2 separate regions of the Homo sapiens genome follow, and region 1 is linked to region 2. Evidence: fine-mapped expression QTL. Tissue or cell type: whole blood. Region 2 holds a variant in brackets; the other region holds the start of a gene. All regions are shown on one strand. Distances are between the middles of the regions.

The links. PIP is the estimated chance that this variant, and not a neighbour inherited with it, causes the effect.
Region 1: ARRB1 starts here. The variant in region 2 is fine-mapped to the expression of ARRB1 in whole blood (TOPMed, PIP above 0.99).

Annotation. Positions count from the first base shown.
Region 1 is chr11:75,347,602-75,353,659 of GRCh38, forward strand. ARRB1 (arrestin beta 1) reads right to left here and starts at 4,060. Exons shown (of 16, transcript NM_004041.5): 1 at 3,987-4,060. The coding sequence starts at 4,006. RefSeq lists enhancers at 3,201-3,250, 4,313-5,268 and a silencer at 3,801-4,080.
Region 2 is chr11:75,373,391-75,381,646 of GRCh38, forward strand. No RefSeq gene overlaps it. Among named protein-coding and RNA genes, the nearest start is that of RPS3, 22 kb to the right of the region's middle. RefSeq lists an enhancer at 7,791-8,256. The variant A/G (reference allele first, on the strand shown) is at 4,036.

The DNA.
Region 1 (6,058 bases), 27 kb before region 2:
GCCCCCTCTCTTGGGCAAAAGCGTCGAGTAGCAGAGAGGGCTTTGTGGGTCAATAGGCCTGGGTTCTTATGCTTGCTGGCTGAATGGCAGTGAACAAATACTTAATCTCTTCTAGTCTGTTTCCTCATCTGCAAAATGGGGACAACAATGACTACACTACTAGATTACAGTTGAATTCATTGAGATTATGCGTGTAATTCTAACACACACCAGATACCTGGCAAAGGTCCAATCGACCAGCAAGGTTGATGGACTCCACCTCCTATTCACATTCATATTTCTCAACTCTATCCTCTCTGCAGCCTAAGTTCAGAGCTCACAGCCTTAGTTCTCAGGTTTCTCCCCAGCCTCCTCACTGGTCTTCCTGCTTCTAGGCCTGCTCTTCCCATCCACCCTACTTGGCGCTGCCAAAGACATCTCTCTGAAATGAAAACATCTGCTTCCAGCCCTCTGCTGCCTCACACTCTTCTCTGAATCACCATCCACTTCAGGAGAAAATGCTCTCTCCTTAGCCTGACATTCCCAGACTGCTGGTGACCGGTCTGTGTTTACCTCTTAAGGCTCACTATCATCCCCAGCCCAGGCCCCAGGCTGCACGCCTTGCTTCCTGCCTCCAAGCCACTGCACATTCTGCACCCTTGGCCAGAAATATCATTCCCAATCCCGCCCCCTTGGCCTATTCATCCTTCCAGATGAAGCTCAGTAGTTCCAACGCCACCTCCTTTCCAGGAGAGCTTCCTGTACCATGCTCCCTGCCTGGGCCTGGGTTGGGGACTTCTCCTTAAGCCTCCCACAACACATGTCATCCTGCGTTATGACCACCTGCTCTGCTCTAAATCCCTGGAGGACAGAGTAGACTCCTTCCTTGCTGAATCCCCAGGCCCTGGGCACTCAGAAGGCACTCATCAACATTTGTTGAATGAATATATGATTGTTCCCAGAGCACCTTGCAGCAACCATCATACTCCTGCCCTGTGATTAGTCCTGTCCAGGTATTTTTTTTTTTTATTTTTTCAGACAGGGTCTCACTCTCTCATCCAGGCTGGAGTGCAGTGGCATGATCATGGCTCACTGCAGCCTTAACCTCCAGGGCTCAAGTGATCCTCCCACTTCAGCCTCCAGAGTAGTTAGGACTATAGGCATGTGCCACCACACTCAGCTAATTTTTGTGTTTTTTGTAGAGATGGTATGTTGCCCAGACTGGTCTCGAACTCCTGAGCTCAAGCAATCTGCCCATCTCAGCCTTCCAAAGTTCTAGGATTACAGGCGTGAACCACCGCGCACAGCCCTGTCCAGGTATTTAACACCTCTTTCCCCCTTGACCCTGGGAGTTCCTAGAGGGCAATGACAGTTTGTGATAAATTTTCATTGTCACTTTCACATGGGGGTGCAATTCCAGATGGAGGGATGGTTGCGATGATTCCTGATGTTCAGTTTTTGATATCTGCAGATTCCTCTTCTAAGTCATAGGTACTCATGCCTTACGGAAAAAGACAAGGTACAGCCCATTACTGATTTTGCCCTTCTTTTCCAAATTACTTAGCCAACTGTCCGGAAAGGGACAGAAAGGCCTCATGGGGCTGCAGGAGAGTCTGAAGGGGAGGTCTGGGCCACCATCAGGTGGATTTAGCCGGGCCTTGGCTCCAGGCTTCAGGCAGTGCCTCTTCCCCTGCCCAGTGAAGTCAGTAAGTACAAGGGAAGCCCTAAAATGTAAGTATTGATAGCTCCAGTTTACAGATGGGAAACTAACGTCCGGAAAAGTAAAGGCAATTGCCCAATGTCCCAAAGGTCCACCAGTGAGTTTGAGGCAGGGCAGGGGGAGCCATGGAAAATACCTTGGCCTCAGAGACAGGGTCTCCAACAGGTGCCTGGAAGCCCATGGTGTCCACATCTTCCTGACAATCATGTCAGCAGGACAACAATGACACTTATCCCCCAAGTCACAGAGAGGTACAGAGAGACCCAAGAGAGGCTGAGTCACTCCGATCACAAGGCAGCCTAGGAAGGACAATGGAGTGGAGAATGGCTCCGACTCCCTGCTATGCCCTGCAGGAAGAAAAGCCTGACCTCATGGGTCAAGAGGGTCTTAATTTCAGGGCAGATGGATGTGGCTGGGGAAGGAGTCACATACCTTCCTACTGAGGACAGAGGCCTAGGTCACAGTGCTGGCCAGCCAGCTGCAATGGGGACTAGCCATCAAGGTTCATGCAGACACAGCATGATCTTCTGCCGTCCCCCCCAAAGCCTGGGCCTCCAGCACAGAGCAGGGCTCCCCTCCCTGGCCCATGAGGGGCCTGGCAGTGCCCTAGGGCCATCCACAGAGACATGACCAAGTGGACTCCAGCCTCCGCCCTGCCTCTGGCCCCTTTTGACCTTAGGCAAATCACATGGCCTCTAGCCCTCTGGTTCCTCTGCTAGAAAACAGGAAGAGGAAAATTAACCTCCTGGAAGAGCTGTCAGGAGGATGGCTGGAAAGTAGTTTCTAAACATTAAGAGCCTGAGTTGCCTCTGAGCCTGTTTCCTCCTCTAGAAAATGGAAATAATCTCTGCAAGCCCTTTCTCACACTGTGGAGAGAGAGTCTTAGATGGCAGTGGGTGAGAAATAGCTTTGTCAGTGGCCCTGAAAGGTGGTGCCCACCGGGGTGGTGTCTCTCTAGTCTGTTAGCTCCTTCAGGGGAGGAGTGGGCCTTGCGCATCTTTGATCCCCCACACTACGCCTAGTATACAGCAAGAGCTTAATAATAAATGGAAACGAGGAGAGGGGAGGGGAGGAAAGGAAGGAGGCAGAAGTCGGACACAAGAATAGAAGAGAAAGACAGAAAACAATGAGAAAGAGGGGGAGCCCAGGGAGAGGCTGCTGTGCCCACTTAGGGGGTGGGGAGGGCAACGGGGAAAATAGGGTGGCAACGCTGAGCCCCTGACCAGCGCTGGTCCTGTCTGAAGGGCTGCCCCCAGGGGCTGTCCTGCTCCAGCCCCCTCCTCCTTTTGTCCCAGTTTCCCCTTTCAGAGGCAGAGACTGTTTCTGAGTATTTCAGGACAGGTTCTAGGAGAACGGGAGGGGTTCTCCCAGCCCTAGGTTCAAAACAGCCCCTGGCCAGCCACTCCTCAGGAGGTCAGAGGGAAAGGGAACAGAGTAGATGGATGGGATCTATTTGGATGAAATGCGATCTGTTTTCCCCAGGCTGGGGGTGGCGGGGGGCGCTCTACCCTGTGTGATGTGTGTGTTTCCACTTCTGGCCATGTGGGGCCTGAAGCGTGTGTGTCAGCGGGCCTTGGGCTAGCAGCTCGTGCCTGTGGGGTGCCAGTCTTTGAGGGCATCAGTCTGATTGTGTCTGTGGGGGTCAGTGTTGGTGTGGCCTTGCGCTCCGCTGTGTTGGTGAGACATGCCAGCACAAGTGTGTGTGCCAGTGAGGGTGATGTGTGTGCCAGCAAGAGTGTTTGCTACAGCGAGTGCAGGTGACAGTGTGCGTATCAGTGTATGCCCACACGTGTGTGCCAGCACGAGGGTGTGCTAGAATTGGTGTGTGTTGGATTGTGAGCTGTGCATGCCAACAAGGCTGTCAGCAAGAATGTGTTGACCGAGGCGTGTATGACGGCGTGCCACTGCGTGTGATGAGCGTGTGCTAGCGGTTGCCAGTGTGTGCGCCAGCATGCCTGTGCCACGGGTTAGTGTGCCCGTGCGTGTATTGTGTGTCAACCTGCCCCCGTGCGTCTCTGCGGCTGCCGGCCAATGCTGGGTGTCAGCGAGCTGTGTGTCCGGGCCAGGAGCTGCGGCCCACATGGGGCGGCCCGGCCCTCGCCCTTTGGGTCCCCCCGCCCACGGCCCTGCCGGGGAGACCACACAGGAGACCTCGGGTGGAGGAGAGCTGGTACTAGATCCCGCGGTGGCCGCGAACGCAGAACCAGGACGCAATCGGAGCCCCCGCCCGTGTCCTCGCCGAGGTCGCCCCCACGCGCCCCCCGCCGGGCGGCCGCCCTGCACTCACCGGGTCCCTTTGTCGCCCATGGTCCGCGACGGTCGCAGGGAGGTCCGCGGCGTCAGCGCCCAGGCTGGAAAATCCCCAGCCAGCAGGAGGAGCGCGGGCCAGCCCGCTCCCGGCTCCCTGCTCCGCCTCCTCCGCTCTCCCGGCCGCCGCCGCCGCCCCCGCCCCCGGTCCCCGCCCGCCGCCCGCCGCGTCGAGCAGCGCAGCGCCCGGGCCGCGGCCAGGGGCGTGGAACCGCGCGGGGTGTGTGCGTGTGTGTATGTGTGTGTGTGTGCGCGTCTGCGTGTGCGCGCGCCGCCCAGCGAGGCAGGGCAGCGCGGCGGGACGCGTCAGGGCCCCAAGGTCGGCGTTTGTGGTGGGGGAGGGGGTCCACCCGCGTGCGAGTCCGTGTGAGAGTGTGTGTGTGTGTGTGTGGTGGTGGTGGTGGTGGTGTGGTGTATGTGAGGGCGCACGGCTGTGTGCGGGCCCTATTAGGGAGTGTATTGGTGTGGATGGAGGAGTGTGCACGTCTTTGTGCAGTTGTGCGTGTGTGCGCACGGCCGTGGGTGCGAGCGCGCTCTCCCGCGCATGCCGGGGCAGCCTTTGTGTGTGCGGGTGGTTGGAAGCCGAGGGTCTGGCGACCCCGAGGCCGCGCTCCCTGCGGCCCCTCGCTTAGCTGGAGACCCCGGGATGCCTGGCAAGGCCTTCGCCCTGTGCTCCACCCTTCCCCATTCCACCCACCCCACCCCCTTCTACTGGAGAGATAACACCCAGCCACACAACAGGGACAGGAAGAAGGGGCGGAGGGGGCAGTAGACGGCCTTGACACTGGGGAACTGAGCGGAGACCCGCGGCCAGCAGGGGCTGCAGGAGGCCGCCCAGGAAGAGGAAGCTGTGAGAAGTGAGAAGAGGCGATAAAGGAAGAGGGCAGAGCTGGCCCGCTGCTGTGACCGGGTAGCACCGTGGAAAGCGCCCATGCCCAGCTCCATGGCTCGCTGTGGGTGACCCTGTGCACTAAGCTTCTGAGAACCCATGTCCGGACCTGTAAAGTGAGGATACACTAATATCAGCCTGCAGAATTGTTAATAGGTTGAAAGAACTCGCTTGTGTTTGCTGGCCTCCCCTGAGCGCCTGCATACAGTAGGTGCCCAGTAGATGTTAGCCCACTTCTCTGCAGGCTTCTTGATGTCCTGTGAAATCTTGGCTGGGACCCTGCTTTGTCTGAGGTGCCTTCCTGCTTTGCAGGTAGTGGGAAACGGTAAGGTCTTTACCACACCCTCACTACTGAGATTTGGCTAATTATCCCGGATAGGTCCCTGATATCTAAGTATTAAGGGGAAAGTAAGCTATCATTTACTCTGATGCTGTTGTGAGTATGTAAACATCTCCTGTAATTATGCTCAGAAGCAGTTACCTATACTGTTTATATGCAGTATAATTACTATAATTATGTCCAGATTTGGCAGAGGGGCAGGGGGAGGCTGATGGGTAGGCAGGGTGGCCCACCTCTGGGCAATGTTAGGAGCTAGAGAGTATGGATGAAAGCCCAGAACCCTCCTCCCAGTCTTGGCCTCTGGGTTTCACCCTCTACAGAGGAAGAAGAGGAAGCCACCTGTTGTTTCTGCAGGGCTCAGAGATCTGGAAAGGAGCAGACTAGAATCTTCTTTGATGACAGGAGATCCCTAACCAGGATGGTGAAGCCAGGTCCTGCCACTCTCCACATCAGTTTCCCCACCTGTAAAACAGGTTTGACCAAACCATAAGATCTCCAATGGATCTCTCCATGCTGATGCCCAAAACATCTAAATATATTTATTTATTTTATTTATTTTTGAGACGAAGTCTTGCTCTGCCACCCAGGCTGGAGTACAATGGAATGATCTTGGCTCACTGCAACCTCTGCCTCCTGGGTTCAAGAAATTCTGCCACCTCAGCCTCCCCAGTAGCTGGAATTACAGCCACTGCCATCATGCCCAGCTAATTTTTGTATTTTTGTAGAGATAGGGATTCACCATGTTGGCCAGGCTGGTCTCGAACTCCTGACCTTAGGTGATCCACCCACCTTGGCCTCCCAAAGTGCTGGGATTACAGGCGTG
Region 2 (8,256 bases):
AAGTCCTGAGATTACAGGTATCAGCCACCATGCCAGCCGAGACATACCTTTTTTTTTTTTTTGAGATGGAGTCTGGCTCTGTCACCCAGGCTGGAGTGCAGTGGCGCAATCTCGACTTACTGCAGGCTCCGCCTCCCAGGTTCAACCAATTCTCCTGCCTCAACCTCCTGAGTAGCTGGGACTACGGGTGCACACCACCACGCCTGGCCAATTTTTGTAATTTTAGTAGAGATGGGGTCTCACCATGTTAGCCAGGCTGGCCTCGAACTCCTGACCTCAGGTGATCCACCCGCCTCAGCCTCCCAAAGTGGTGGGATTACAGGTGTGAACCACCACAACTGGCCAAGACATACTTTTTTAATGCCTTCCTGAGTAAAGTAAGGGAAGCAGAGGGAGAAAACAGCCAGGCCTTAGAATGGCACCCTGTATCTGATGAAGAAAAAGCGCTGTGACTTCTGGAACAGGAGATGGGACCATCTCTTGCTTTCAAAGGTCTCTAAGGATCCACAGCCCTGTGGCTGTGAAGGAGACAGAGTTTGAAATGGTTGTCAGAAGTAAATCTTCAGACTTCCAGGAGTGGGGCCATTCATTCATTCAACATGGGTTTGTTTATTTATTTATTTATTATTTTTTGAGACAAAGTCTCGCTCTTGTCCCCCAGTCTGGAGTGCAATGGCGCCATCTCAGCTCACTGCAACCTCCGCCTCCTGGGTTCAAGTGATTCTCCTGCCTCAGCGTCCCGAGTAGCTGGGATTACAGGCACCTGCCACCATGCCCGGCTAATTTTTGTATTTTTAGTAGAGACAGGGTCTCACCATGTTGGCCAGGCTGGTCTCAAACTCCTGACCTAGGGTGACCCGCAGGCCTTGGCCTCCCAAAGTGCTGGGATTACAGGCATGAGCTACAGTGCCTGACGTTAACATGTATTTATTGAGTACCTACTCTGTGCCATGTCTTTGTTTGAAGGACTGGAGATACAACAATGAGTACGAGTTTAAGAATCCCTGCCCTCCTATGGAACTTACATTCTATTCAGGGAGCAGGAAAAAATTAATACATACAATTATAAATGCACTTATTCCTTGACCCAGCAACCTCATTTCTGAGGCTTTAGCCTAGAGCTTTATCGGCACCGTAAAAAATGATACAGGCACAAGGTTATTCATTGCGGTACTGTTTGAAATAGCAAAAGACTGAGCACAGCTTTCAATTTTGAACCACAAAACATATTATACATTCAAATCAAAAGGAACGTTTAGAAAATTGTAGTATAGGTTTTGTTGGATGGCGATAAATGTATTATGGAGAAAAATTAAGTAGGGAAGGAGATTCGGTAATGATGAGAGGGGACATTGCTATTTGAAAATGATTGTTAGGGAAGGCCTAGTGGAGAAGGCCCGCATGTGAGTAAATATCTGAAGGAGATAAGGATATACTGGGACATCCTTCAGGCAGAGGGAACAGCAAGGGCCAAGGCCCTGAGGCCTTTCAATGGCTGAAGAACAGCAAGGAGGCTAGAGTGAGCTGGAGTGGCCTAGTGGTGGGGAGAGGGTGTCCCAGCATTGTCCTCCAGCCGCTGGGGCCTGAAGGCTTGCAGCTGGGAGACTCATGGCCCTAAGGGACCACCACCATCTCCAGCTCCCCTGCCCACCTCCTAGTACTGCTTGCAGTGATGGCTTCCTCCTGGAAATTCTCTTCTCCGTTGGCCACCTGACGACAATCCTGAGGTCTCCCTCTGGGTACTTCTTCTTTTTTTCCTTTTTTTTTTTGAGATAGGGTCTCGCTTTGTTACCCAGGCTGGAGCACAGTAGCACAAACACTGCTCACTGCAGTCTCAAACTTCTGGGCTCAAGCGATCCTCTCGCCTCAGCCCCACAAGGAGCTGGGACTACAGGTGCGCAAGTCACCACTCCCAGCTAATTTTTGTATTTTGTAAAGACGGGGTTTCGCCATGTCGCACCAGGCTAGTCTCCTGGGCTCAAGTAATCCTCCAAGCTCAGCCTCCCAAAGTGCTGGGACTACAGGCGTGCATCACCCTGCCCCTCTGGCGGCCTCTTCTAAGTCTCCCTCACTGCCCCGAAGCCCCAAGCCTCCCGGTTCTGTCCTTGTCCTCCTCTCTCTTGCCGGCTGTTACCATTCCACCCTCCTCCAGGGCTTCTGCCCAGAGTCCGCTCCCAAGCCCAGACCCCACAGTTCTCCTGGCCTCTGGACATCTGCCTCGGATGTCTCAAGCATATTGGACTCCACGTATGCCCAGACCTGACCAAAGCACTCGCTGATCACCCCTCTGCCCCGCAGACCAGAAAGGTTCATCCTCTGGATTCCCACCGTGCATGCCTCCCCTCACAGACAGTGCTGATGGTTCCCCCTTCCTGCCTCCTCCATCTGCCCTGAGCAGGACCTGGCTTGGTCTGTTTGTTTGCTGAGGCCTCCCCAGCACCCAGCGCAGTGCCTGGTACACAGTGAGTCCTCAATAAACAAACTGAACAGGCCAGGCACGGTGGCTCATGCCTGTAATCTCAGCACTTTGGGAGAGAGGCAGGTGGATCACCTGAGATCAGGAGATCGAGACCAGCCTGACCAACATGGAGAAACCCCATCTCTACTAAAAATACAAATAAATTTAGCTGGGCGTGGTGTCGCATGCCTGTAATCCCAGCTATTCAGAAGGCTGAGGCAGGAGAATCGCTTGAACCTGGGAGGCAGAGGTTGCAGTGAGCCAAGATTGCGCCATTGCACTCCAGCCTGGGCAATAAGAGTGAAACTACGTCTCAAAAAACAAAAAAGAAAAAGAAAAACTGAACAAATAACTGCACAGCTTCAGTCACTGCCTCCAGCTTCTGAATCTGCTCCCCTCTGCTAGACCCGGGGGCCCGCCCTCCAGGGTCCCTAAGCTCTGGTTGGGGACAGCCCCACGGTCCAGCCTCACAGCTCTCCCACACTCAGAACCGTGCTTCTTGCAGGAGATTCCGATTTCAGGAGGCCACCGGCCCCTTGCATCTGCCCCCTGGAGGCTCAGTGTCGCTCTTTTGGTTTCAGTGATTTCTGCCTGCAGGGGACAGAGTGTGACTAGGTCATGGACACCCTTGGGAAGAACATTTTGAATAGGAGGAAAGAGAAGCAGAACCAGGCATTGGAGGGCCCCGCCTGTCGGGCCCTAAAGACCCATGGTGATGCCTCTCAGTGCAGCATCCTGATGTGTTTGTGTCCCACGATGAGACTGTAAGCCCTAGAGAGCGAGGATGGCCTCAGCTTCTCCTCTATGACTGGTGTCCTATGGCAATTGTTCTCAACACAGGGCAGTCCTCCACCCTCACCCCTAAGATTGCCAGAAAAATGCAGGCCACCAGGTGAAATCTTAGAATCAGATAAATAAGTACTTTTTCAGTATAAGTATGTTCTCTACTCAATATGTCATTTGGGGCATCCTTATACTGAAAAGTTATTTGTAGGAACATTCATTCTGTTTTATAGAATGAGGTGTTGTCCAATTCTAGAAAAAAAATTTGTTATATGTATGAAATACAAATTCAAATTTAACTGGGTGGTTTGAACTTTTATTAGCTAAGTCTGGCAACCCTATCCCTGGGTGACATTTGGCAATGTGTGGAGACACTTTTGGTTGTCAAACTGTAGGGGGGTGCGGGGTGCTACTGGCATTTAGTGAGAGAGGGGAAGGATGCTACTAAACATCCTGTAGGGCATAGGATACCCCCGCCACAACAAAGAATTCTCCAGACCAAAGTATCAATGGGTACTAGAGCACCCAGAACTCTCCTCCTCATACCCTTGACGCACCTGCCTTCCTACCCCCAAGCCATTGTGGCAAGAGACTCTTAAACTTACCACAGATGTTGGCTGGGCATGGTGGCTCATGCCTGTAATCCCAGCACTTTGGGAGGCTGAGGCGGGAGGATCACTTGAGGTCAGGAGTTCGAGACAAGCCTGGCCAAAATAATAAAACCCCATCTCTACTAAAAAATACCAAAAAAAATTAGCTGGGCATGGTGAGGCGTCCTTTCTGGACCAGCTCCT[A/G]CAGCCTGGTCCCCGTGCCCATGCAGAGGTAGCTGCTGCTGCTGAGCTGATGTTGAGCATGGCAGGGACAGAGTTCTATCTTCTGCTTGGAACTGACACTGGAAAATGGGATCCTGTGGTCATGGGGGCAGTGTATTCTACTAGATTCTGCTAAGTTGCTTTAAAATTAGCTGTATCGGCTGGGCACGGTGGCTCACACCTGTAATCCCAGCACTTTGGGAGGCTGAGGCCAGCGGACCATGAGGTCAGGAGTTCGAGACCAGCCTGGCCAATATGGTGAAACCCCATCTCTACTAAAAATACAAAAATTAGCCGGGTGTGGTGGCGAGCGCCTATAGTCCCAGCTACTTGGGAGGCTAAGGCAGAAGATCGCTTGAATTCAGGAGGTGGAGGTTGCAGTAAGCCTAGATCACACCACTGCACTCCAGCCTGGGTGACAGAGCAAGACGCTGTCTCAAAAAAAAAAAAAAAAAAATTAGCTATACCATTATACTCTACCACCAGCAAGGTATGGCAGGACTGACACCAGGCTTTCAAATGCTGGCAATCTGACAGGCGAAAAGTAGCATCTTATTGTTTTAATTTGCATTTCCCTTACAATGGTAGAGATCGAATATCTTTGGATGTTCATTTTTATTTTTATTTTATTTTATTTATTTTTGGTGAGACAGAGATTTACTCTTGTTGCCCAGGCTGAAATGCAATGGCGCGATCTCGGCTTACTGCATCCCTGGCCTCCCAGGTTCAAGCGATTCTCCTGCCGCAGCCTCCCAAGTAGCTGGGATTACAGGCATGTGCCACCACGCCCGGCTAATTTTGTATTTTCAGTAGAGATGGGGTTTCACCATGTTGCCCAGGCTGATTTTGAACTCCTGACCTCAGGTGATCTGCCCGCCTCGGACTCCCAAAGTGCTGGGATTATAGGCGTGAGCCACTGTGCCCGGCCTTATTTTTTTTTTTAATTTTTTTAGTATTTATTGATCATTCTTGGGATTTGGCAGGGTCATAGGACAATAGTGGAGGGAAGGTCAGCAGATAAACATGTGAACAAAGGTCTCTGGTTTTCCTAGGCAGAGGGCCCTGCCGCCTTCCACAGTGTTTGTGTCCCTGGGTACTTGAGATTAGGGAGTGGTGATGATTCTTAACGAGCATGCTGCCTTCAAGCATCTGTTTAACAAAGCACATCTTGCACCGCCCTTAATCCATTTAACCTTGAGTGGACACAGCACATGTTTCAGAGAGCACGGGGTTGGGGGTAAGGTTATAGATTAACAGCATCCCAAGGCAGAAGAATTTTTCTTAGTACAGAACAAAATGGAGTCTCCTATGTCTACTTCTTTCTACACAGACACAGTAACAATCTGATCTCTCTTTCTTTTCCCCACATTTCCCCCTTTTCTATTCGACAAAACCGCCAGCGTCATCATGGCCCGTTCTCAATGAGCTGTTGGGTACACCTCCCAGATGGGGTGGCGGCCGGGCAGAAGGGCTCCTCACTTCCCGGACGGGGCAACTGGGCAGAGGCGCCCCCCACCTCCCAGACGGGGCGGCAGCCAGGCGGGGACTGCCCCCCACCTCCCGGACGGGGCATTTTTTATTTTTTATGTTTTTAAAATTTATTAACTCATATACCTGCACATCATACAACAGTCAAAAATCATCAGTGAGCCAGGAACGGTGGTTCACGCCTGTAATGTCAGCACTTTGGGAGGCCGAGGCAGGAGGATTGCTTGAGCTCAGGAGTTCAAGACCAGCCTGGGCAACATAATAAGATCTCATCTTTACTTTAAAATTTTTTTTAATTAGCCAGATGTGGTGGCACATGCTTGTAGTCCAGCTACTTGGGAGGCTGAGGTGGGAGGATCACTTGAGCCCAGGAGGTCAAGGCTGCAGTGATCTGTGATTGCACCAGTGCACTCTAGCCTGAGCAACAGAGCCAGACCCTGTCTCAAAAAAAAAAAAAAAAAAAAAGAGTCAGTAAAAAGTAAATCTCCTTTCCATAGATCTGAAGCCAGCTCCCATTGAAAGACCGTGTCTGAAAGAAGTTTCTGGTGTTTCCTTCCAGAGATATTCAATGCATATATAAGCACTTGGATGTACAGGCTTTCCTTTTGGTTTTTAAACAAATTGTCAACCAGGCATGGTGGCTCATGCCTGTAATCCCAGCATTTTGGGAGGCCGAGGTGGGCGGACCACTTGAGGTCAGGAGTTCAAGACCAGCCTGGCCAACATGTTGAAACCCCATCTCTGCTAAAAATGCAAAAATTAGCCAGGCATGGTGGTGGGCGCCTGTAATCCCAGCTACTCAGGAAGCTGAGGCATGAGAATCACTTGAACCCGGGAGGTGGAAGTTGCAGTGAGCCGAGATCATGCCACTGCATTCCAGCCCAGGCAACAGAACAAGACTCCAAGACTCCGTCTCAAAAAATAAACTAAACTAAACAAATTGTAACATTTTCCACAGTGTTCTGCACTTTTCTTTCTTTCTTTTTTTTTTTTTTTTATGAGACAGGGTCTTACCCTGTCATCCAGACTGGAATGCAGTGATCTTGCCTCACTGCAGCCACAACCTCCTGGGTTCAAGCAATCCTCCTGCCTCAGCCCCCCAAGTAGCTGGAACTATAGGCATGCACCACCACACCTGGCTAGTTATTTTTTTTTCTATTTTCTGTAGAGATGGGTTTTTGCCACATTGCCCAGGCTGGTCTTGAACTCCTGGGCTCATATGATCCTCCCGAAAGTGCTAGGGTTACAGGCATGAGCCACTGCACCTGGAATTTTTTTAAATCCTGGAAAATGGCTTATCCCAATACACATAGAGGTATCTCATTATTGTACATGATTCATAGTATCCCATCTGATGGACACAGTACAATTTTGAACAGTTCCCTAGCGTTGGACATTTTGGTGGCTTCCAATATTTTGCTATAGTGAATATTTTTGTGCATATACAATATCTCACCTATAGGAATGTATTTGCAGGATAATTTCCTGGAAGCACTAGAAGCGCAACTGCTGGGTCAAAGGGCAAGTGTATTTAAAATGTTCAAGGTTATTACCAAGTTGCCTTTCACATCAATTCACTGTTTATGTCATTTTATGATCATACAGAAGCTTTTTTTAAATTCAGAGAAAAATATAACACAGTCATTGTCTTTGATAATAAGAAACCAGCATTTATGAAGCATCTACTGTGTATCAGGAACTTTACACATATTGCCAAAAACACTCAGGACCCCTCTGAGGCACAATGAATTAAGTATTTTGTTCGAGGCACCCACAAAGGAGGTGGCAGAACCAGAAACCAAGCCACGGTCTGTCAGGATCCTCAGCTTGGGCCTGGGCTTGCTCCTTGTCATCATGCAGAAGCTGACACCCTGGTATGAGGAACTGGATTCCAGCATAACTCACAGTGATGTCACATGACAGGTGTCTGCATGGAGGCCTGAACCAAGAGCTGGAACACAGACCCAGAGAACAGGGCAGGTCGGGTGGCGGTGGGGTAGCTGAAGGGGCTTCACAGAGGCAAGAGCCTTGAAGGTGAGGCCTAAGGGTTGGAGGGAACAGATTTTGCTGGTGAAAAGTAGACAAGGCTGCTCAGGGGAAAGGGATCCACAAAGACATAGAGGCCTGAAAATCAACTGGGGAAAGAAGAGCTAGTGTGCACAGAGCAGAGGTTGGTCTGGGGCTGAGGCTGGAAAGGTGGGGTGCAGGCAGCGGGTGAAGAACCCCTTGCAGGCTGCTCTATGGAGCTTGGGCCTTCCAGCGGGAGGCTGCTCATCTGGGAGGCTGGACAGGGCACATGGCATGGGGTGGAGCTCAGACTCTGGAGCTAATCTTACCTCCACCCCTTCCTGGCTCTGTGCGCTGTCTCCTCCTCTGTGAAACAGAGAATCTAATTCATAACATTGTGGGAATTAAATGTGCTAAGACAAGTTTAAAAAATAAAAAACACTGGCTGGGCATGGTGGCTCACGCTTGTAATCCCAGCACTTTGGGAGGCCGAGATGGGCAGGACGGGTGCATCACGAGGTCAGGAGATGAAGACCATTCTGGCTAACACGGTGAAACCCCGTCTCTACTAAAAATACCCAAAAAATTAGCCAGGCGTGGTGGCAGGCACCTGTAGTCCCAGTTACTCAGGAGGCTGAGGCAGGAGAATGGCGTGAACCCGGGAGGCAGAGCTTGCAGTAAGCCGAGATTGCGCCACTGCACTCCAGC